4 separate regions of the Homo sapiens genome follow, and all the other regions are linked to region 4. Evidence: fine-mapped expression QTL. A gene starts in region 4. Each other region holds a variant in brackets. All regions are shown on one strand. Distances are between the middles of the regions.

Region 1 (4,779 bases), 69 kb before region 4:
AAAAATAAGTTAAAAAAAAACCCTGAATTCTTCACACTTTTCATACATACACTGATGGGGGCCTGGAGAGTAAAGAGTGAGCACTAGCAAAGCCAGGACCAGGCTAAGGCCAGTGAGGAGCTCTAAATATCAGAATCTGGGGTTATAAAGATCATATGCCTGAGACCTGGCTTAAGCTAAATAATAGTGCATCCCAGCAAGATGTATTCTAGCAAAGACCCAAGTCTCAGGTAGATCTCATGATGTAGGAATATCAACCAAAGAAGTAGAGCAGTAGGGCACACTAGCACTCTCTCTACTTCTGCTTCTCCTCTGACGCTATCCTGAAGACTACTTCAGCTAAATGAGTTCATGGAACTCCTGTAGAAAGCAGGCTAAGCCAAGTACAAACTGGGGGAATATCTGCAATGCCTGTAGCCAGAAAAAGACTGGTATCTAAAATATCTAAAATTTCCAAACAGAAGAATGGATAAAAGATATAAACAGCTGGGCACAGTGGCTCACACCTGTAATTCCAGCAGTTTGGGAGGCTGAGACAGGAGGAGGATGGCTTGAGGCCAGGAGTGCAAGACCAACCTGGGCAACATACTGAGACCCCATCTCTAGAAAAACAAAAAAATTAGCTGGGTGTGATGGCACATGCCTACAGTCACAACTACTCAGGAGGCTGAGGTGGGAGATTGCTTGAGCCTGGGAAGTTGAGGCTACAGTGAGCCGTGATTACACCACTGCACTCCAGCCCAGGTGACAAAGCAAGACCCCATCTCTTAGGAGAAAGATATGAAGGCCAGGCGTGGTGGCTCACACCTGTAATCCAAGCACTTTGAGAGGCCAAGGCGGGCGGATCATGAGGTCAAGAGATTGAGACCATCCTGGCCAACATGGTGAAACCCCGTCTCTACTAAAAATACAAAAAATTAGCCAGGCGTGGTGGCAGGCACCTGTAGTCCCAGCTACTTGGGAGGCTGAGGAAGGAGAATCACTTGGACCCGGGAGGTGGAGCTTGCAGTGAGCCGAGATCACGCCACTGCACACTCCAGCCTGGCGACAGAGCGAGACTCCCTCTCAAAAAAAAAAAAAAAAGATATGAGTAGACATTTGGCTAGAGCAAATGCAAATGGCCAATAAAAACATAAAAGGATCCTCTGCCTCTCCAATAATTGAGGAAATGCAAATTAAAACAAGAGATACCACTTCACATTGGCAAAAGTAGTATGTATGGAAGCATAGACTTTTATACTCCGCTGGTGGGAGTGGTTGTTGATAAAACCATTTTGGAAGATAATTTGGCAGATTATATTAAAACTTAACATGCGCAAATCCTGTGACCTTACAATTCTATCTTTCCCATAGGAAATTCTTCCAATAATCATAATACATTTTTATTAAAATTTTGACTTTGTTAAAAACAGATGCTATCTGTATAAAAATGCTTTTAAATTGGAAGCTTATTAATAATCACGTAGACAGAAGAGAATTGTGGAGAGCAGATTCAACAGAAAATGCACCAGGCTTACTTAGCTGAAATGGAAGTACCAATCTTGACGTGTCCAGAGAAAAAAGTAAGTAAAGAGAAGGAAGTGAGTACATAGAGGTATTTAGACTTGACATGAAGCAACACGGTTGGTAAGCTGGAGAGAAATAGGTTCATAATAATACAGTGTCTAGCTGCTGGTTTATACTCTATTGGAAGGGGAAATTGTTATTTTATAGCATTTCTCACATTCCTCCCAGTATTCGTTGGTATGTTCAGGCCTTCCCTCCTCTCCTGGAGTGCAAGCACCCTGCAGGCAGAAGTGGTCTCATTCTTTTTTGGTATTCCTCCATAAATGGTACCTTGTCCCTTGTATAGCAGGCATACTCCCAAGTAATTGTTGTACATACAC[A/G]TGTGTCACAGTTATCATTGAAGAAATCCTCATTGCCTTTTCACAAACCACTCTAAACTCTGAGCTCTTCATCACTGAGAAACCAAGGATCAGACCCATGATCTAGATTTTTTTTTTTTTTTTTTTGGAGACAGAGTCTTGCTCTTTCATCCAGGCTGGAATGCAGTGATGATATCAAAGCTCACTGCTGCCTCAAACTCCTAGGCTCATAGGCTCGAGTCATCCTCCCACTTGGGCTTTGGCATCCTGAGTAGCTGGGACTGTAGTTGTGTGCCACCACGCCTGGCCAGTTTTTTATTGTTTTATTTTTATTTTTTGGTAGAGTCAGGGTCTCTCTTTGTTTTCAAAGCTGATTGCAAACTCCTGGCTTCAAGCTATCCTTCCACCTTGGCCTCCCAAAGTGTTGGGATTTTGTTGTTGTTGTTTCCCTTCTGTGGGCAGGACCCAGAGTCCCAACTCTCATAAATCCATCTTTTTGCCCCCCTTTAGATGGCCATGCTGCTGAAACTTCAAGAAGCTGCCAACTACATTGAGTCTCCAGATCGAGAAACCATCCTGGACCCCAACCTTCAGGCAACACTTTAAGGGTTCGGCAATCACTGTCACCCCCGGACAGCAGAACGCTGGCATCAGCTATCTTAGCTCCTCCTCTCCCCTCTCCTCTTTCAGAGCACTGGCTCTCCAGCCCCAGGAGGAGAACAGGAGGGAGGAGGAGATGAAAGAGGAGGGACAGGTTCTTGGTGCTGTACCTTTGAGAACTTCCTAGGAAGGAATGGTGGGGTGGCGTTTGGGAACTTGTGCCCCCTAAACACATTTACTGGCCTCCTCTAATGACTTTGGGGAAAAGATGATTCTGGGTCTTTCCCTTGACTTCTTGTTTCAATTACAAACTCCTGGGCTTTCTGGGGAGGGGTTCAGAAAACATCAAAACACTGCAGCAGTTCCTAAATGATTCTCACAAGCAACCCTGAGAGAGACAGTCTTGTGAGGGAGATCTGGGGGAGGCAGGAAGCTCCTCAGATTTTCTCACAGACCCTTCCCAATTCCATCACCACTGCCAACAACTCCTCCCCCAGAGATCTGGCTGGAGCCCAGAAAAAGAAGCATGTGGTTTAAAAAATGTTTAAATCAATCTGTAAAAGGTAAAAATGAAAAACAAAAACAAGCAAACAAACAAAAAACAATGGAAAAGATGAAGCTGGAGAGAGAGGAACCAGTTGCCAAGGTAGAGAGCTGCCCGCTCCTGCCCTCTGGATGACATAGGGGACATCAACAAGACGGCTGCCAACCTGAGAAGTCACCAAACCACAAAAATAACCTTACAGCCTTCAGGGAAAGACTACCAGCTCTGTCTTTCTACCCTCTAATTTAACAATGCATAAGAGTCAATAAACCCTACTTTTTTATTTTTGGTTTTTATTTTGTTTTCATTTTTTTCTCCCATTTGCCTATTTATTTTTTTGTTTCCCTTTTTTTTTTCTTTTTCCGTTTTTCCATTTCCTCACATGTCCACGAGATGCTTGGGTTGCTTTTCCAGGGGCTAGTTTGGCTTTTCCAAGTGGGTTTTCTTTGGAGAATCTGATGCCATGCAATTGGCATGACACCTGCCATGCCACTATCTTTGGCATCCATGGGGCTTATATGAGACATGAAGCATTGGCTCAGAAGTAGAGGGAGAAGAGGAACCCAGTTCCCTTGACTTCCCTTTTGAGAGCACACGTTCTGCTGGGTAGCTCAATTGCCAGCCTCTGTCATGAGAAGGTATAGCCCCATCTTGATAGAAGAGTTACTCCGAGCTTTATCATGGACCAGAGGAAAACCAGAAAACTGAAAACATTCCTCTGTCTTGTGGCCAGTTTGGCCTTTCACTGCACTATTCTGATGGTGCCTGACTGAATCCAAATATCCTAGCTGGCTCTTACTATTTTTCACAAATGAGTATTCACATATAAGAGATGAACATCCATGTGAGATCATCCCAATCAGAATATAAGACTCAAGGAGTTTGACTTGGTGGCCAATACCTGCCTTCCAAAGAGATCCTACCTTTGCAGATTTGCTCCTTTCCCATTGCCTTGAAGGTCTGGCAATCCCTGTTCTTTCATTTGACAAGTACTTACTGAGTACTCACTATATACAAATCATTAGGTTAAAACAGACACACACACACACACACACACACACACACACACACACACACACACAAGACCTGGGCCCTTAAGTTTACAGTCCAGCAGGAAATGTTAACCTCCATTCAGCTACGCCCCCTTGTTATCTAGACCTTCGGGATCATCTAAGAAATGTAGCTGAAACCCAAGGAGCCAGCTAGAAAGAAGCTTTTGATTAGATGTACAATACATTGGGGGCAGAAGATCTGGGATCAATTAAGATGGAGCCTGAAGGACTATGGAATCTTGCTTGTCAGGAATGGGCAAGTCTACTTCCTGCCATTTCTGAAAGCCCCGCGGGACCAGCTTCTAGGCTGAGCTGCCTAGTAGGCTGAAGCTTCAGGACTCTGCAGGTCAAGGATATGTGATGAGCACCGGCCTAAGTGTTTGCTCTTCAGATTCCTAAGTAGCACAAGACTTTATCAGAATCTATAGGCATACCAACCTGGATCACTCTTCCACCCAACCGAGGAGTAGATGCATCTGAATCTTCATATCGGTATATTAAGTCCAAAAGATGGTCCGGGCTGCCCCTCACAAAAGCTTCTGCATCCACGTGGTAAGCTCCCATGGATGACAGGGTTCTGTATGATGGAGACTATTATTGCTATTGCTGCTAATTCCATGAGCTGTGAAGATCCCTAACCAACTCAGCTGTAACATATGCAATTCTGTGGTGGGAAGAGGCTGTGTGTCCAAGGATGGTGCTGAAATCACTGCCTTAA
Region 2 (6,181 bases), 43 kb before region 4:
TATCACAGTCCGCCCTTGGGTCTTCGAACCCTGATCCCTTATGTCAATAGGATGTCCAACTCAAAAGATACTGCCACATTACTAGAATCCCATTCAATAATTAATAGTCTAGTTCATCATATTGTATGAGTGTCTCCCAGGGTGAGGCTGCTCAGATTGGCAGGCTTCCTTTCATTCTTGTGAGGTTGCAAAAGCAGAAGTAGTCTTAGCAAACACAGAACTTTACCATTTCATGAGTTTGATATAATTGAGCTAAGAAGCAATGTCATCTCTTGCTCTGAGCCTCTTTTGAGGTGTTAATGTGATATTGGAATCCTCTCAGTTCATAATCCACTTATTCATTTCTTTCCTCTGAGCTACTGTTTCTTCTCTCTTAATAAGTACCCAAACTTTTCCACCTTTGGAAGGAGCATTACAATCAGCCACTGTGATGGTCTAGATTGCAGGCAACAATACTAGTCTAGCAAGTACCTCTTCCTCAGTGCACCCCCTTCAGATAGGGTTAGGTTACAGAGGTGCAGAACTAGTGGGCTATTTTTACTGTCAGGCAATATAGCTGTATTAACTGTTAGCCCCAATTTTGCTGGATGGGGTGAAGGCACAACCCATTCCCATCAGTCCATTAGGAATTCTGACCTAAGTTACAATACGTAGTTAGAATTTCTTGCCTAGGAATCATTCCTGCTTCCAGCACATGTAGTTGCAGCCCTGGTCCTAAGACCATTGCATCAGGTAGGGGAATGGGGGAAAAAAAAAGAAAAGGAAAGTTGAGGTGATGTGCGGGAAAAAAGACAGAAAGAAGTATCTTGTAAGTAAGAAGAGACTGTCTTTCACCTTTATCCTTCAGGAGCTACTTCAGGAACCAAGGACAAAAGCCAAATACTTTTTAAGAAAATATATTCTTGGTCGGGTGTGGTGGCCCACACCTGTAATCCCAGCACTTTGGGAGGCTGAGGCAGGCAGACTTGAGGTCAAGAGTTCAAGACCAGCCTGGCCAACATGGCAAAACCCAGTCTCTACGAAAAATACAAAAATTAGCTGGGCGTGGTGGTACACTCCTGCAATTCCAGCTATTCCAGAGGCTGAGGCACAAGAATCGCTTGAACCCAGGAGACAGAGGTTGCAGTGAACTGAGATAGCGCCACTGCACTCTAGTCTGGGTGACAGAGTGCGATTCTGTCTCAAAAAAAAAAAAAAAAAAGATATTCTTATTACTGTAGTCAGTTAGGAAAGAATAAGGCTTACAGGAGCTGAGAACCAGGAATCATGGATGAAAACCAAAATATATATTTTATAATATTGTAATAAATAAAGGAGAAGGGACAGTACTTCCTTATAAAAGAATTCCAATTAATAAAGTGAAGAGAATAAAAGAAATGCAAAATCACCATTAGGCAGGTAACACCCACAGATGGATGCTAAAATCAGTGGGTGAGACTTTGAAAAGAAACAGGATAATAGCAAAATGTCAAAATATTTCTCCCTAGATTTGGATCAGTTACAAAGGGAAAAACAGTACCTATAAGTAGAGAAACCCAGCAGACCTTGCCATGTGATCAAGGTTACCATAACCAGTAATAAAATTTTTATCAACATTATGTACTCCCTAATATGATATACTGAGAAGGACACAGCATCACTTTCTGGTATTCTTGCCAAAAATGTATAACCTCAATCTAAAACATGAGGAAACTTTAGTCAAACCCAAATTGAGACACGTTCTACAAAATAACTGATCGATATTCACCAGAAGTGTTCTGGTCACAAAAGACAAAAATGAAGACCTGTCACACTTTAGAAGAAACTAAGGAGACATGGCAACCAGATACAATGTGGGATCCTGAAGGAAAAAGGACAATAAGGAAAAAAACTGGTGAAGTTCTTATCAAGTCTAGTTTAGTTAATAGTATTATACCCATGTTAATTTCCTGATTTTTGATCACTGAACCGTGGTTATGTAAGAGGAAAATGGATGAATGATATCCATGAACTCTGTACTGTTCAGCTTTTCTGTAAGTCTTTAAAAATTATTTTGTAAAATATGGACATAGATCATTTTTAGCAGTTATTAACCTGGTTACTTGGATAAGCCCTGAACCTGAAACATTGCATGTAACAACTCTTTCTTGGTATTAAGCTTTTCTATTGTATAAATGCCCTTTGGATGGCTATTTCAGTAGAATCCAATTAAGGTGGAACATAGATGGGAAAGCCAAACAGTGTATTCATGATAGACAATAAAAAATAATAGCAAAATAACTTATTTTTGTTTTCAAGTTTTTACCAGTATGGCAGATATTGTACAAAGCATTTTACATATATTATATTATTCAGTCTTAAAAGGATTGCTTGATATATTGATACCAGTATTTTTTTTGGGAGGGGGGGGCGTACAGAGTTTCCCTCTTGTTGCCCAGGCTGGAGTGCAATGGCGCAATCTCGGCTCATCGCAACCTCTGCCTCCTGGGTTCAATTAATTCTCCTGCCTCAGCCTCTCGAGTAGCTGGGATTACAGGCATGTGCCACCATATCCGGCTAATTTTGTATTTTTAGTAGAGACGGGATTTCTCCATGTTGGTCAGGCTGGACTCGAACTCCAGACCTCAGGTGATCCGCCCACTCCCACCTCTCAAAGTTCTGGGATTACAGGCGTGAGCCACCTTTCCCGGCCCTGATACCAATATTCTTATTTTGTGGGTGAGGAAGCTGAGGTTTAGAAAGGAAACTTACCTAATGACAGGCATGGTGGCTTCAGGATTTGAACCTAAACAGCCTGTTCTCTTAATCACACCAATCCATAGCTCCCTCCAAAGGGAAGTGATGAGCCTATTGTGACCTATGTATCTACCAGTAGTAAGCAAGTCTAGAAAACTGCTGTTCATTCTTTAGCATAGTGCTGTACAACAGAAATATAGTATGAGTCATGTGTGAAATTTTAAATTTTCTAGTGGCTACATTAAAAAGGCAAAAAGAAACATAAAATTAAATTTTAACTCTATATTCATTTAACCTGATATAGACAAAGTATTATTGCAACATTTGATCAATATAAAAAGATATTTTCCTCTTTTTTTCACACTGTTTGAAATCTAGTGAGTATTACATTTATAGGCATCTCAAGTCTCACCAGCCACATTACAGGTACTTAGTAGCCATTGTGACTAATAGCTACTGCATTGGATAGCACAGCCCTACAATGTGAGATGTAAAAATTATGATGCACTGTTGGTTTTACATTCTT[C/G]CTCCTCTTTTCACAAAGAAATATTTGACAGTTGACTCCTTTGCAAGTATATATTAGATCTAAGTTCTAATTTGGAGCCAGGCACAGTGGCGTGCATCTGTAGTCTCAGCTACTCGGGAGACTGAAGCAGGAAGTACATTTGAGCCTAGGAGTTTGACACTGCAGTGAGCTATTACTATGCCACTGCACTCCAGCCTGGATGACAGAGTGAGACCCTGTCTCTAAAACAAAATTTATTTTAGTAATCATTTTTTAAAAATAAATTTTAATTTGGAAGTAAGAGTTACTTACAGCCTCCCAATGTGCAGTTCAAGTTCCATTGCTTATTGGAAACTACTCATTTGTAGGACTAAGTTTGTTGAAGCCAGGTTTTCTTGGACTTAATCAGCTCATAACTGGTGGCATATATCTGGACAACTCGTGAAATCTCACCTTTTAAGTTGTCCTCAGGAATAGATGGTCCCATGATATTTTGTTTTTGTTTTGTTTTGTTTGTTTGTTTTTTGAGACGGAGTCTCGCTCTGTAGCCCAGGCTGAAATGCAGTGGCACGATCTCAGCTCACTGCAACCTCTGCCTCCCAGGTTCAAACAATTCTCTGCTTCAGCCTCCCAAGTAGCTGGGATTACAGGTGCCCGCTACCATGCCTGACTAATTTTTTTGTGTTTTTAGTAGAGACGGGGTTTTCACCATCTTGGCCAGGCTGGTCTTAAACTCCTGACCTTGTGATCCACCTGCCTTGGCCTCCCAAAGTGCTAGGATTATAGGCATGAGCCACTGCGCCCAGCCTGTTTTGCTTTTTTGAGATAGAGTTTTGCTCTTGTCTCCCAGGCTGGAGTACAATGGTGCGATCTCAGCTCACTGCAACCTCGTCCTCCTGGGTTCAAGCGATTCTCCTGCCTCTGCCTCCCGAGTAGCTGGGATTACAGCCATGCATCACCAAGCCTGGCTAATTTTGTATTTTTAGTAGAGATGGGGTTTCACCATGTTGGCCAAGGTGATCTCAAACTCCTGACCTCAAGTGATCCACCCACCTCGACCTCCCAAAGTGCTGGGATTACAGGCGTGAGCCACCACGCCAGGCTCCATGTTTCAATTACCACATTAATTGGTCTAAGAGGAAGGTGTTGTCATCTTGGAAGAGAAGATGGCTGGAAGGTGCTATGCAGTGACTGGAAAAAGTGTAAGGGTGTTGAAACTTCATTGTAACAAGGCATGTCCTGCAAGCCAACTTGTTTCTTTTACTTGGAGGAATCAGTCTTAGCAGTTATCAGCTCTTTTTGAAACAACAGATTAAGTTTCTTTCTGGAATCTTGTTGGCATCAGGGTTAGAGCTTAGTAAATTTCTATGGCTTTCCTAGGTACTCTTAGACTCAATAAAATTTTCTCTTTCAGAATTTGGTGTTCACTTGGCAGAACTGACTGTAGATCCCCAGGGGGCACTGGCAATCCGTCAGGTAAGTCCAGACTGGCCCAATTTATAAATAGTTTCCCTTTCCTTGGTAATGAAACTTTCTTATAGGAAAGAAAAATAAGGCCAGTGTATAAATAACCTAGGATGTTGTGCCAGATTTAGATATACTTCAGATGTATCAGGCTATGTATATAGTTTTTATGTGTGAAAAAAATCTTTTTCTTGCTGTACTACTTGGCTTATTCTCTTCACAGCTGGCATCAGTCATCTTGAAACAATATGTGGAGACTCACTGGTGTGCCCAATCAGAGAAATTTAGGCCTCCTGAAACTACAGAAAGGGTAAGTCAGTTACTTGATTAGTCTACCTGAGGAGATTTGAGGGTCCATTTTAAGAGATTAGACTATAACATTCTTTGACAGCATGGAGCAATCAAAAGACTAGGCAGAAAAGGAGATTGGTGGCTGGCATTGCGGGCATAGGGCTATACATTAAAGAGCTCAAGTATCAGGCTGGTCTGTGTTCAAATTCCAGTTTTGCTTTTTACAAGCTATGAGATCATTGGAAATGTAGTTAACACCTAAGCCTCAATTTCCTAAATCTCCAAAGTGAGAATAAAAATACCAACTAAGGGTTTAAGAATTAAATGAAATAACATTTGTACTTAGTGCAGTACTGTGCAGTCATCCTGAGTCCCCAAGAAATTTTGAGGTATAAGGTCTGGAGGAATGTTTTCCACTGGAGCTTTATGCAATTATGGAAATATTCTGTGTCTGTGCTGCCTAAAACAATAGCTACTAGCTGCATATGGCTGTTGAGCACTTAAAATGGGGCTAGTGCAACTGAGGAACTGAATTTTAAATTTTTTAAAATGTTAATAGCTATGTATAGCTAGTGGCTACTGTAATGGACTGCATAAGTTTAGAGATCACAGATGAACCCTCCAAATGAATTGTCAAGTTTGTGTATAGGAGTTTTCTGTAGACATGCAGTACCTTGTACTCATTGTTTTTCCAACACAGTTCCCAATTGAACTGGGCTCTGCCAGTCACTTTTAACCTGATCTAATAGCAGGTGGACTTTTATCCCTTACAGGCAAAAATTGTTATCCGGGAGCTATTGCCTAATGGGTTGAGAGAATCGATAAGCAAAGTGCGCTCCAGTGTGGCCTATGCAGTGTCAGCCATTGCCCACTGGGACTGGCCTGAAGCTTGGCCCCAACTCTTCAACCTGCTCATGGAGATGTTGGTGAGCGGAGACTTAAATGCCGTCCATGGAGCCATGCGTGTGCTGACAGGTACCAGAAGCCCTTTTCCCTGGTATTGGTACTTGGATCTCAAGCGACAGGAGTATTACCAGAAGCTATGTGATATAATGGCCTGGACCAGTAGGAATTGCTGCTGATGTTATTCCTCCCTCCTAGTTTTTATCTCTCCATCTACCCTCCAGCTCTATTGTTTTTTTCTAGGGAATTAAGTTTGTATAGTATTACTTCTACTCCCAAACCTACCACTTACAGATACAGTAT
Region 3 (6,181 bases), 35 kb before region 4:
AACTTGTTATTATGCCATCTATCATATTTGTTTGGACTAATTTCCTTGAATTTCTAAATAAAATAGAACACTCACCATTCAAAGCTCAGACTTTATCCTTGAGGAGGAAATTACAGCTGTAAAGAAAATTCAACCTTGAGTATTTGATCTTCATTTGACTCGTGGGGATTGATATTGTTCAAAATTGTGGAGTACCTTAATCTTGAAAATGCCAGCTTGCGTTTGTAGCTGTGTATCTTCCCCCAAAATGTCCCAAGTGGTTAGCTTTATTTTTAGTTTTATTTATTTATTTATTTATTTGAGACATGGTCTCACTCTGTCACCCAGGCTCAGGTACAGTGGCACTGTTGTAGCTCACTGTAACCTTGACCTCCTGGGCTCAAGCGAGCCTCCTGCCTCAGCATCCTAAGTAGCTGGGACTGCAGACACATGCCACCACATGCAGCTTTTTTTTTTTTTTTTTTAAATGTACTGGCAGATCTTGCTATGTTCAAGCTGGTCTTGAACTCCTGGCCTCAAGTGATCCTCCTGCCTCAACCTCCCAAAGCTCTGGGATTACAGGTATAAGCCACTGTTCCCGGCCCATATGTCCATTTCTATAGTGATAACGTGGAAAAGCATCAGGTAAAGTGGATAGTTACTGGAACTCAAGAGCTTTATTCTGCTGCTTTGTAACATGAATCCAGGGTCCTTTGTGCTGTCTCAGTGCCTTGTGTGTGGTGTATTTGGTTTTTTTTTTTTTGAGACGTGAAGGGAAAGATACGACCCATATTTCCGTCACCTTCGAGTCTCATTCTGTGTATAGGTTGCTTTTTGTCACATTTATATAGAAAATTCCCATTTGTTCCAGTTAGCAGCAGCCTCTGACTTTTAGGTCAATAAAATCTGAGAAGAGTAACATATACAAAGAGGAGTTGAGGCCTAGTAAGTCTGTACATATTTTATTACATGCATCAAACCAGCTTGCCAAGCGAAAGTACTGAAAACAGAAGCAAAGGTAAGAAACCTCGAAGTGTAACTGAATGTTGACAGATGGGCACAAGATAAATTAATACAGAATTTTCCCAAGTTGACCTCACAAGGACTTTTATGCAGTTCTATTACAGATTTTCTTTCAGTATTTATATTAAAGTTTTCTTTTTTAATCTCTTGTATTTTTCTTTATTTCCATATTATTCTTTCTCCTTCTAACAAATAATCAGTAACTCTTGCTACTTTTGCTTTCACAGAATGAGACCACCAGGCCAGTGTCTTTACCTGTGTGCTGTCTGTTTGGGAACTGCCACCTAGAAGCAGTTCAGAAAATATCACACTTAATATCTTTATGAAGCAGTATTTTTTTTTTAACAGTACTACTTTTTTCTTTGTAGAATTCACTCGTGAAGTAACAGACACACAGATGCCACTTGTTGCTCCTGTCATTCTCCCAGAGATGTATAAGATCTTCACCATGGCTGAGGTATGAAATCTCAGCTCCAAGATTATAGTGAGTTCAGGCTCTCTTCAGCCCCCAGCCTTTCAGGTGGGAGATTATGGTGTTTGCAACTGATCTCAATACCTAAAAACTAGAACTGACAAAGATCTGGATCTGAATCTGCATTAACCTTAGACCTTTCACTCAACTACAAGGGCAAGCCTTTGATAAAAGTGTGAAATAGCTGAAATATTTCTTCACATATCGTACTTCCTGGCATCCAGTAGCCCCTAAGTAGATAAATAGTGCCTTCCTTCATGCTACTTCCAGCCTCTTACTGAGTTATCCCACCTACGCTTGCCTACCTCAGCTAAGTAATGGGAAGCAATCTATCACTGCATTGCACATAATAGACCCTTAATATATTGCATATATATTTGATTAGTGTGTATATGAATGATAACTCATTTATAGTAAGGTATAAATACCTGATGGATAATGTTTTAACTTCCCTATTCCCCTCTGCCCCCAACCAATGGTCTGCATTTTAAAGGAAATATATTGGCTGTGTTGGGATTTTAAGCACTACCTAGTCTGGTATTTTTTAATCAAATGAACCCACAGAGGCCCTTATATAAGGTTCATTCCAGTAAGTTCCAACATTATGATTCTGCTACCTTTCATTCTCTGAATTACAGAAGTCTGCCTCCTGGACATAAATGAATTACATTTCCCATTTCTCGAGGGCATCCAATCTCATGTGAGGATTCATTAGTCATAGTTTTACTTCTAGTCTGAGATACACACATACCTACACACTCCAGTCTCGTGGCTATGCTGTTATGCTGTAACCTTTCTTCCAGGTGTATGGTATTCGAACCCGTTCCCGAGCCGTGGAGATTTTTACCACTTGTGCCCATATGATCTGTAACATGGAGGAGCTGGAAAAGGTAAGCAGGTCTTTGGATCAATAACAGACTTCATGCTTAAAAGTTTTATTCATGCAGAGCAGTGAGTCATTTCATGATAGCAGCACGAAAAAGCACACTAACCAGTATTAGAGATAGATTTAACATTTTTATTAAATTATTGTTGTTATTTTTCCAGACAGGGTCTTGCTCTGTCACCCAGGCTGGACTACAGTGGTGCAATCATGGCTCACTACAGCCTTGAACTCCTGGGCTTAAGTGATCCCCTGACCCCCAGTAGGAACTACAGGTGTGGTGTGCACCACCACACTTGGCTGATTTTCTTTTTTAAATGTTTGTAGAGATAGGGTCTCACTGTATTGCCCAGGCTGGTCTTGAACTTCTGGGCTCAAGCAGTCTTCCCCCCTCAGCCTCCCAAAGTGCTGGGGTTATAAGCATGAACCACAACACTCAGCTATATTTGTATTTTTTTTATTTATTTGGGTTTTTTTTGAGACAAGATCTTGCTCTGTCACCCAGGCTGGAATGCAGTGGCATGATCATAGCTCACTGCAGCCTCAACCTCCCAGGTTCAAGCAATCCTCTCACCTCAGCCTCCCGAGTAGGTGAGATCACCAGCATGTGCTACCACTCCTGGCTAATGAATGAATGAGTGAACGAATGAATTTATTTATTTATTTAGAGATGGAGTCTCGCTCTGTCACCAGGCTAGAGTGCAGTGGTGCAATCTCAGCTCACTGCAACGTCCGC[C/T]TCCCAGGTTCAAGTGATTCTTCTGCCTCAGCCTCCCGAGTAGCTGGGACTACAGGCACGCGCCATCATGCCCAGCTAATTTTTGTTTTGCAGTAGAGACAGGGTTTCACCATGTTGGCCAGGATGGTCTCAATATCTTGACCTCGTGATCCACCCACCTCGGCCTCCCAAAGTGCTGGGATTACAGGCATGAGCCACCATGCCCAGCCTAATGAATTTATATTTGTAGAGACGGGGTCTCTCCCTATGTTGCCCAGGCTCATCTTGAACTCCTTGGCTCAAGTGATCCTCCCACCTTGGCCTCCCAAAGTGCTAGGATTATAGGTGTGAGCCACCACACCTGGCCTGATTGAATTTTCAACTTGTAAAAAGCTTAGTCTTCTTTTGAGTCTTACTTCTTCAAACACCTTATCCTATATCCTTTTCATAGTAGTCATCCCTTAGAACTTTCCTACTCTTTTATGGCCCTCTTGTGTGAAGCAAAGCTAGCTGAAAAATACCAATCCCTGTGATTCAGAAGCAGTTAGGAGGAAAGTTGGTCTTACATAATAGTTTTTAAGAGGGCTTTGATGAAGAACTGCAAGTGCTGGTTAAGGAAAAATGAAATCTTAGGTAACACCTTCATTGACTTTATAGCTATTCTCTTCTGATCAGGCTTGGAGCCTGAAGAGAGCTTTAGGTGCCTTTCAAATATCAGTGTTTGATATATATGTGTTGAAGCCATGGATTAGGGGTTTGTCCAGTATTGACTTTGGTTTCTGTTATCAGGGTGCAGCCAAAGTCCTGATCTTTCCCGTGGTACAGCAGTTCACAGAGGCCTTTGTTCAGGCCCTCCAGATACCAGATGGCCCCACATCTGACAGTGGGTTTAAGATGGAGGTCCTAAAGGTAAACACTTACTACCAATGAAATATTTGGAGTTTGAGGGGCTGGTCTGAAATCATTTATTTCTTATATATCACTCATAACTTGGGTCCTTTTCTCTTAACTTCTTAGGCAGTGACAGCCCTAGTGAAAAACTTCCCAAAGCACATGGTGTCCTCCATGCAGCAGATTCTGCCTATTGTTTGGAACACCCTAACCGAGAGTGCAGCTTTATATCCTTTCTTGAAAGTTTAAGGGAGCTACTACCACCTATAGTTAGGAATCTCGCACTGGGTTTCACATTCATATGGTTCCACTCTTCTTACACAGGCTTTTTTAAGGTGTCTACTTTTAGTGTTGGAATATGTAACATTTCCATGTAGATTATATGTAAAGCAGACTCCAAATTCTATTTCTTTACTCTTCATCATACTTATGTGAGGACAGAAGTAAATTACACAGAAGAAGTAGAAGATCCTGTGGATTCTGATGGTATGTAGTTTATTTGATCTTTATAGAAATACCAGTTAGTGGGAAAAGAAAAAGAAGCCAGAGATGGGGGCGGGAAACAGTAACTTGAGAGGCTTCACTCTATTAAGTGTTTTCTAATTCAGTTTATTTTCGATGTATTCGATGTGGGGAAATGAGAATTGACAATCTTTAATCTGTTCCACATAGGTAGTTGCATAAATCTCATAAAATCATAGAATTTCTGCATTGGAAGAGATACTTTTAAGGCCATTTAATCTAGCCTACTTCTGGCATTTTGTTGTGTTTCATTTGGGGGTCCCAGATCATGAATCTTTCGTTTCTGTTTTAACATTTCTCATTATTTCAGATTAGAACAATAGACATACTGGAAAATATATCCAGTGTTTCTGATTCTTTTACTTGAAAAACCAAAGAATATTTAATATCCTCAAAATTACGTTTTGTGACCTCTGAGCCCTCTCTCCCAATTCCTCAGGAATGATCATTAGCAAGTACTTTAAATATTCAGTAATTTACAAAGGTTATGTAGTTCATTTTCTGCATATATGCTTTCCTTTTGCTTTCTTGTCATTAATTTCTTCTCTTCTGTATTTCCTGCAGGTGAAGTCCTGGGCTTTGAAAATCTCGTCTTTAGCATTTTTGAATTTGTCCATGCTCTACTAGAAAATAGCAAATTCAAAAGCACTGTTAAGAAAGCCTTGCCTGAATTGATTTATTATATTATCCTGTACATGCAAATCACTGAGGAGCAGGTAAATAATATTTGAGAGACAGTTACCATCTTGTATTTGGAAAGTGCAACTTGAAGAATATGAGGTCTTGGTCAGGTGAACACTTTATTTCTAAAAATAGACACAAAAAGAATAATTTCATGTGAAGTTCTGGGAAAGGTTTGACATCATTTTATTGCCAAATCCAAGGTTTTGGAGTTCACCACCATACCTGGCTTTTTTTTTTTTTTTTTTTCCCAGCAAAGTACTATACTATGTTGCCCAGGCTAGTAGTCTCTAACTCCTGGGCTCAAGCAATCCACCCACCTTGGCCTCTCAAAGTGCTGGGATTACAGGCATGAGTGACTGTGCCTGGCCCACTTTTGCCATTAGAAAATCTCACAGGACCACTAACCTAAGACACTGATTTTTAGGAGAATCTGTTCCTTCCCTAAAGTAAAATGTAATAATCAGACCATTAGCCTGATGGTGGGTCATCAAAAGCAGCAAAGAACGTTCAAAAATTAGATAACGCCTCGTTTAAAACAGCACAAGAATTGACATAATTTTCACAATAAATAGTCTATCAGACTTAATCTATTCAGAAAATCGATCTATCAAAGGGTAACAGCAGGTTGACATTGGCAGAGAGCTAGTAATCAGCCAGATTCTAAAAGAGAGCAATAGCCATTGCTACCTACCTTGCTACTTAATAGTATTTATTTCTCTACATCAAAAAGAAAAGATTTTTTTAAGCTAGAGTTTTTGTTTCAGTTTTTGTTGTTGTTGTTGTTTTGTTTTGTTTGCTTTTTGGGACAGGGTCTTGCTGTTTTGCTCAGGCTGGAGTGCAGTGGTGTAGACAAAGCTCACGGCAGCCTTGACCTCCCAGGCTCAAGCCATCCTCCTGCCTCAGCCTCCCGAGTAGCTGAGACCACAGGCATATGCCACCATGCCCAGTTGACTTTTTTATTTTTTGTAGAGGTGGGGTCTCACTATGTTGCCCAGGCTGGTCTCAAACTCCT
Region 4 (6,181 bases):
GACGGAGTTTCGCTCTTGTTGCCCAGGCTGGAATGCAATGGCGATTCCCGGGTTCAAGCCTCCCGGGTTCAAGTGATTCTCCTGCCTCAGCCTCCCGAGCAGCTAGGATTACAGTCATGTGCCACCACACCCAGCTAATTTTGTATTTTTAGTAGAGACGGGGTTTCTACATGTTGATCAGGCTGGTCTCCAACTCCCGACCTCAGGTGATCTGCCTGCCTTGGCCTCCCAAAGTGTTGGGATTACAAGCGTGAGCCACCGTGCCTGGCCCTTTAGACTTGTTTAAAGAGAAGCAGGTGGTGAAGCTGAAGGGCCTGGGCTTTGAAGCCACAAAAGTCCAACTGCAAATCCCAGCAGTGTGAGCTGGGGGAATTGAAGTTCTTCCAACTTCAGTTTCCTCATCTGTACAATGGGATGAGCTCATCAGCAATGTTCGCTGCTGGTGGTATCATTACCATCATATTCCAGACACCCTGAGGAGAACCTCCTACTGGCAAAGCCTATGTTTTGTCTCATCTGATCACAAATTACTCTGCCTCCTCTTTTCCAGGAAAGCGTTTCTTTCCCTTGCTGGGGATTAAGAGACCAGCTTGGTGAGCGGGGGGTATTCCTGCCTGCCCTTACCTAGAGAAGGTGTAGTGAAGCCCTTCCAGGCCTGAAGATTTAGACAACTTCTTCCAGGGCCCCCAGTCCTCCCACCCAAGCCCCTCCTCACTCCTGGCCAATCTACAGACTCTTTCAAGACCCAGGTTCATTATGGCGACATAAGCTAGCCCCAGCTCTCCATCTCCGAGCTCCAGCATCCCTTGTCAAGGTAAGAAGTGCCAGTTCTCCCAGTGCAGCCAGTTCTCCCCTCTGGTTGGCCCACAGCCCCCTCTCTTCACTCTCTGTCCTAGTCTAGTCACCTCCCATCCCATGAACTGAAACACATTCTTAGAATTTTGCAATTAGAAAATCACTGATGATGTTGGTGCGTGCTAGGTGTCATTGCAAGCTGGAAGTGTCAACTAGGGGTATACACTTTGAGGAGGGCGTGTCAACTAGGGGTATACACTTTGAGGAAGGCTAGTTGGAGAAAAAAGCAGGAAAGTAGCTAGAGAGGGATGAGTTTTAGGAAGGATGTGGTTTGGTTTGGTTTGCTTTGCTTTGCTTTGCTTTAAATAGGAGAGACTTGAGATTTCCTAGGGAAAAGAAGCTGGTAAGGTGTGAGAAGCTAAAGACACTAAAGAGATGGGATAATGAAGAGACAAATCAGCAGGGGTCAAGGGTACACATGGGAGATTCAGCTCTGGGCAGGAAAGACAGTCCCTTATCTGAAGATGATTCAACCAACAATGACAACACTGATGGCTAGGGCTGGATGGCCACATTGAACACAGCCACGTGGTCCCTGCAGTCATGGAGCTTTTAGTGTAGGAAAGAGGAGATGGATGGCAATGGGCACACTGAGTAGGTGGTGCTGGATTCAGAGGCGTTTCTCTTTGTCCCTGCTGCTGCATTTATGACTGTGTCCTGCGTGAGGACATACTCTTGCCCATCAGGCTACCAGCAACTTTCTGGGGCAGGAGCCTATCCTCTCCTATTCCAGCTCTCTTGGGTAGGTGTGCCAGCACCCACAGGGGCCCAGGATGGGGTAGCTCCTCTTTCGGCTGTCCTTCCCTAACCTACTAAGATTCTACTGGGCCTTCCATGGACCTGTCCTGATTCTCTCACCCCAGAACACAAGAAATACTCACTGTCTACACTGTCTGCTGTTGCGGCTGGGGATCAACCCTGATTTAGATTTGGGTCTTCCTGATGCCTCTACCATTTACTGGCTGTATTACCTTGAACAAGTTCTTTAACCTCCATGAGTCCTAGTTTCTCAGTCTGTGAAATGCGATTGATAACACTGATGAACCTTGCTTAGTTCATGGAGTTGTGGAAAGATTCCAGTGAGGTAGATGTGGAAGCCCAGAAGTGTGTGAAAGGGTGTACATGGCAGGGGATTAAGGTAGGCTTTTGATGATCTCCCTGGCTTAATTTGCAGTTCCTCGGAGGGTACCTCATGTAGCATGGGGCATAGTCACTGGCACTCAGTATAAACCTGTGAAGACTGACCTCTCCCATCCTAAAACACTGTCTCCACCTGGAATTAACTGTTGCCCACCTGAAATTAACTGTTGCCCTCCCTATGCTCCGGTGGCTATTGCAGTACAGGCTTGCTCTGTGAAGGGCTTTCACTGTGAAGAGTGTTTAACTGGATGGGCCCCAGGTGGCCCCAGCAGCCTGCCTTCCCTGCTAGTGAGGCCATGGGCTGGTGCATGCCAGCTCTGTCCACTTGAAGGGGGAAGGGTCCATCGTAGGGAGCCAGTGCAGCTGGCAGGGTTCAGGCCTGTGGGCACCGCTGGGGACAAAGCCACTCTGAATGCCTCTCAATGAGTGCTTGTGTTCTGGGAATGGGGGCGGGGTGACATCCAGCCTCTTTCCCTCTCCGCCCCCGACAGGATGTCCCAGGCTGGACGCGGCAGAGGAGGTCCCCCACAAGTGAAGGTCCAGCCCTGCTCCTCCAGGGTTGGCCCATGTGTCTGGGCATTCGGAGGTGGCACCAGGATCAGGGCTTCTGGAGTCCAGCATAGTGATTGGGCCCAGGCCGGGGGCGGGTCCAGGACACAGCCAGGCTTCCCTGGCCGCAGTGCCCAACTGCCCGCAGTGCCCATGGTGGCTCGGATGGGAGGAACCACCGCGGAGCCGGGGACAGGGGGAGCAGGGCAGTGCTCTGCTGGGTGAGGGGCACCCAGCTCCAGAGGCTAGGTGGGCGTCGCTGGTGGGTGGACTCCTGGGCGCTGCGCGGAGCCGCGCCGGCTGGGTTAGCGCGGGCGGGGCGCTTAGTCCCACCCCCAGAGGAGGCGGAAGAGGAGCCCGAGCCTGGCCGCGGGCTGGGCCCCGCCGCAGCTCCAGCTGGCCGGCTTGGTCCTGCGGTCCCTTCTCTGGGAGGCCCGACCCCGGCCGCGCCCAGCCCCCACCATGCCACCCGCGGGGCTCCGCCGGGCCGCGCCGCTCACCGCAATCGCTCTGTTGGTGCTGGGGGCTCCCCTGGGTAAGGGGATGGGGAGAGATGCGGCAGGAGTGGGATGGGGGCGGAGGAAGGGGAGGGACCGATCCGAGGGGCTTGGGCTCGGGGCTTCTCCGAGACCCTCCGGCTGCCACGGGAGCCTTGGGTGTTGCTGGGTCCTCAAGAAGCGGGAAGAGGGAGCTCCAGGATGCTGGGCCATGGGAGGCTGATCCCGGGGTGCAGGGTCAGCTTCAGGCAGAGGCCTCGGGGGCTCTGGGGCTGAGACCCTCAGGGTGGAGACAAGGGGCAACCCTCAGTGTTCGGGAGCCGTCAGGCTGGGGACCGCCGGGGGAGTGGGGCCGAGCGCGGCTGGGGATGAACTGGCCTGGTGGCCACTGGGCACCCCCAATCCCTGCCCGCAGTGCTGGCCGGCGAGGACTGCCTGTGGTACCTGGACCGGAATGGCTCCTGGCATCCGGGGTTTAACTGCGAGTTCTTCACCTTCTGCTGCGGGACCTGCTACCATCGGTACTGCTGCAGGGACCTGACCTTGCTTATCACCGAGAGGCAGCAGAAGCACTGCCTGGCCTTCAGGTGGGTTCCTGCCTCCTCACCCTCACCACCTCCTCTATCCTTTTCTCCAGAGGCCTCCTCTTCCTCCCTCCCGGACTCCTGCCTCCTCCGTTGTCGACCTCCACATTCTTAGCTGAATAGAGTCACCAGGACTCAAGCCTGGCGGCAGAGCTAGGTGCTTAGGTGCTGGTGCCTGGGAGTTCCAGAAAAGGCATGTTAGTTACCTTCATAGGCTTTGACTGGGCCCGGGGTTTCCAGGTTCTTTCTGGAGCCCTCCCTTTGGTCCTGCCAGGTCATGGGGAGGGAGGGTTCAAGGTTAACACCCGGACGACAGTGTAGCTTTGTGGAAGAAGCTCTGGCACAAAGGCAGGAGACTTGGGTTTGATTCCCAGGTCCACTTCTTACTAGCTGTGTGATCTTGGAGAAGACACTTGCCTTCTATGGGTCATTGCTTGCCAAATTAGTGGTTGTCAAACTTTTTTTTAATATATCATATATAAAATAGATATAGAGACTTCTGATTGAAGCGGGGTTTGGAAAAAATGGCTCTAGATTATTTCTAAGGCTCCTTTCAGTGTTATGCTGTATGTCTAATCATTTAAGTTGTAGATATAAAAGCAATGGTTGGGGGCGCACTGCAAATCCCCGTATGCTTCACACTAGCCAGCCAGGCAGCATAGCCTTCTGGGAAGTGGAGGTCCTCTAAGATCTCCTTCACAGGGACTGGGCAGAGCCCCACAAGGAACCCCAAATCTCAGCATGCCATGGCCCCCCTGCTGGCCAGGAGTTGGAGCCAGCATAATGAGGACTCCGTCCTATGAGTGTTGGAAGGTGAGAGGACCTGTTCTTTGTCTAAAGCCCCAAGACCATAGCAGGCATCGCCTCAGCTGTGATCCTCTTTGTTGCTGTGGTTGCCACCACCATCTGCTGCTTCCTCTGTTCCTGTTGCTACCTGTACCGCCGGCGCCAGCAGCTCCAGAGCCCATTTGAAGGTACACCCAGTACTGGGCAAGAAGGGCCTCAGATGGGCTGGGCTAAGTCCAATAATGGGCAGCAGAGAGTTCATGGATTGGGTAAATTCTGTAGTAGTATGTGCTTCTGTATACACACACCTGCCAGCATGAAAACCCAGAAAAATGCTTGTAAACCCGTGAATATTAGAATGTGCCTGGGATATATGGAACATCAGACTTTGTGTGCATTTCTGTGCATACACATGAAGATTCAAATGTGTACAGGAGTGCAGTCTGTCAACAATAGTGGGTGCAGTGGGTGTATGCATACATATGACTCTTAGTAAGTACACGGGGTCAGGTCTGTAGTGATGAACATTAATTGAGTGTGCTCCAGTGGATGGCAAAATATGTGCCTGAGTGTTGGCATGTGATGCACATATGCCACAACCTGATGGACATGGGGACAGTGATGCCATACGGGAGATCAGTGTGGGAGGGAAGGGCTAGGAGAAGACCCTCTTAGTGGCAGCTCTGCTGGATTACAGGATACCAGCCCTGAGCTGTCCCCTTCTTGCCCAAGTGAGATATTCCCTGGGCTGTGCTCCCTGGTTCATGAGGTCTCTGAAACCTGCTGAGGGGAGCAAACTTGCTCAACACAGATTGACCAGCTGGGGCCACGTGCACAGCTCCCTGCTTAACTCTGCCAAGCAGGGTGTGGGAGGCAAAGATGGCCAGCCTGGAGCTTGCCAGAGGCCAGCACCAGGGTGCTTACCTTGGTTTCCTGGGCAGGAGGAGGAGGCTTCCCATAGGAGATGGGTCTCTGAATGCTGATCCTTCTCCCCCATCTAGGCCAGGAGATTCCAATGACAGGCATCCCAGTGCAGCCAGTATACCCATACCCCCAGGACCCCAAAGCTGGCCCTGCACCCCCACAGCCTGGCTTCATATACCCACCTAGTGGTCCTGCTCCCCAATATCCACTCTACCCAGCTGGGCCCCCAGTCTACAACCCTGCAGGTAAGTAAGCAATCTGGAGCCCCTTGCTGCTGCCTTCCCCCACCCCTTGCCCTGCGACCTCCCCTGTGCCTCTCTCATTCTCAGATTCCCTCTCCCAGACTTCCTCCACCTCTAGCCCGAAACCTCCAGGCCCACTCTTCCCTATGGGTCCTGTCTGCCCCGGGGGCAGGGGTGTTACTTTTCGTCCACCTATGCCACCACTCACCCTCATCCTGTCTCTTTGGCTTTCAGCTCCTCCTCCCTATATGCCACCACAGCCCTCTTACCCGGGAGCCTGAGGAACCAGCCATGTCTCTGCTGCCCCTTCAGTGATGCCAACCTTGGGAGATGCCCTCATCCTGTACCTGCATCTGGTCCTGGGGGTGGCAGGAGTCCTCCAGCCACCAGGCCCCAGACCAAGCCAAGCCCTGGGCCCTACTGGGGACAGAGCCCCAGGGAAGTGGAACAGGAGCTGAACTAGAACTATGAGGGGTTGGGGGGAGGGCTTGGAATTATGGGCTATTTTTACTGGGGGCAAGGGAGGGAGATGACAGCCTGGGTCACAGTGCCTGTTTTCAAATAGTCCCTCTGCTCCCAAGATCCCAGCCAGGAAGGCTGGGGC

Alleles and levels. Alleles are on the strand shown, and positions count from the first base shown. SD is a standard deviation of normalised expression in the study named. Not every link is listed here.
For the expression in prefrontal cortex of the gene that starts at base 2,910 in region 4, C is the high allele of the variant in region 2 and G is the other (small effect, 0.34 SD a copy in BrainSeq).
For the expression in putamen of the gene that starts at base 2,910 in region 4, T is the low allele of the variant in region 3 and C is the other (moderate effect, 0.42 SD a copy in GTEx).

What was found. PIP is the estimated chance that this variant, and not a neighbour inherited with it, causes the effect.
Region 1: its variant is the best candidate, but not a certain one, in a credible set for the expression of SHISA4 in whole blood (TOPMed, PIP 0.71).
Region 2: its variant is the best candidate, but not a certain one, in a credible set for the expression of SHISA4 in prefrontal cortex (BrainSeq, PIP 0.67).
Region 3: its variant is the best candidate, but not a certain one, in a credible set for the expression of SHISA4 in putamen (GTEx, PIP 0.52).

Annotation. Positions count from the first base shown.
Region 1 is chr1:201,817,462-201,822,240 of GRCh38, forward strand. It overlaps NAV1 (neuron navigator 1), which reads left to right. Exons shown (of 34, transcript NM_001389617.1): 34 at 2,376-4,779. The coding sequence ends at 2,471. The region is part of intron 1 of IPO9-AS1 (IPO9 antisense RNA 1); the gene reads right to left. Among named protein-coding and RNA genes, the nearest start is that of IPO9, 9.3 kb to the right of the region's middle. The variant A/G (reference allele first, on the strand shown) is at 1,887.
Region 2 is chr1:201,842,645-201,848,825 of GRCh38, forward strand. IPO9 (importin 9) reads left to right here. Exons shown (of 24, transcript NM_018085.5): 2 at 4,635-4,696; 3 at 4,908-4,994; 4 at 5,749-5,950. Among named protein-coding and RNA genes, the nearest start is that of IPO9-AS1, 16 kb to the left of the region's middle. The variant C/G (reference allele first, on the strand shown) is at 3,242.
Region 3 is chr1:201,850,734-201,856,914 of GRCh38, forward strand. IPO9 (importin 9) reads left to right here. Exons shown (of 24, transcript NM_018085.5): 5 at 1,371-1,459; 6 at 2,278-2,364; 7 at 3,862-3,981; 8 at 4,090-4,190; 9 at 4,391-4,449; 10 at 5,050-5,201. Among named protein-coding and RNA genes, the nearest start is that of MIR6739, 9.5 kb to the right of the region's middle. RefSeq lists an enhancer at 3,748-4,042. The variant C/T (reference allele first, on the strand shown) is at 3,094.
Region 4 is chr1:201,885,989-201,892,169 of GRCh38, forward strand. SHISA4 (shisa family member 4) reads left to right here and starts at 2,910. Exons shown (of 5, transcript NM_198149.3): 1 at 2,910-3,079; 2 at 3,457-3,628; 3 at 4,466-4,599; 4 at 5,413-5,580; 5 at 5,812-6,181. The coding sequence starts at 3,007. The coding sequence ends at 5,858. RefSeq lists enhancers at 2,403-2,912, 2,753-3,047.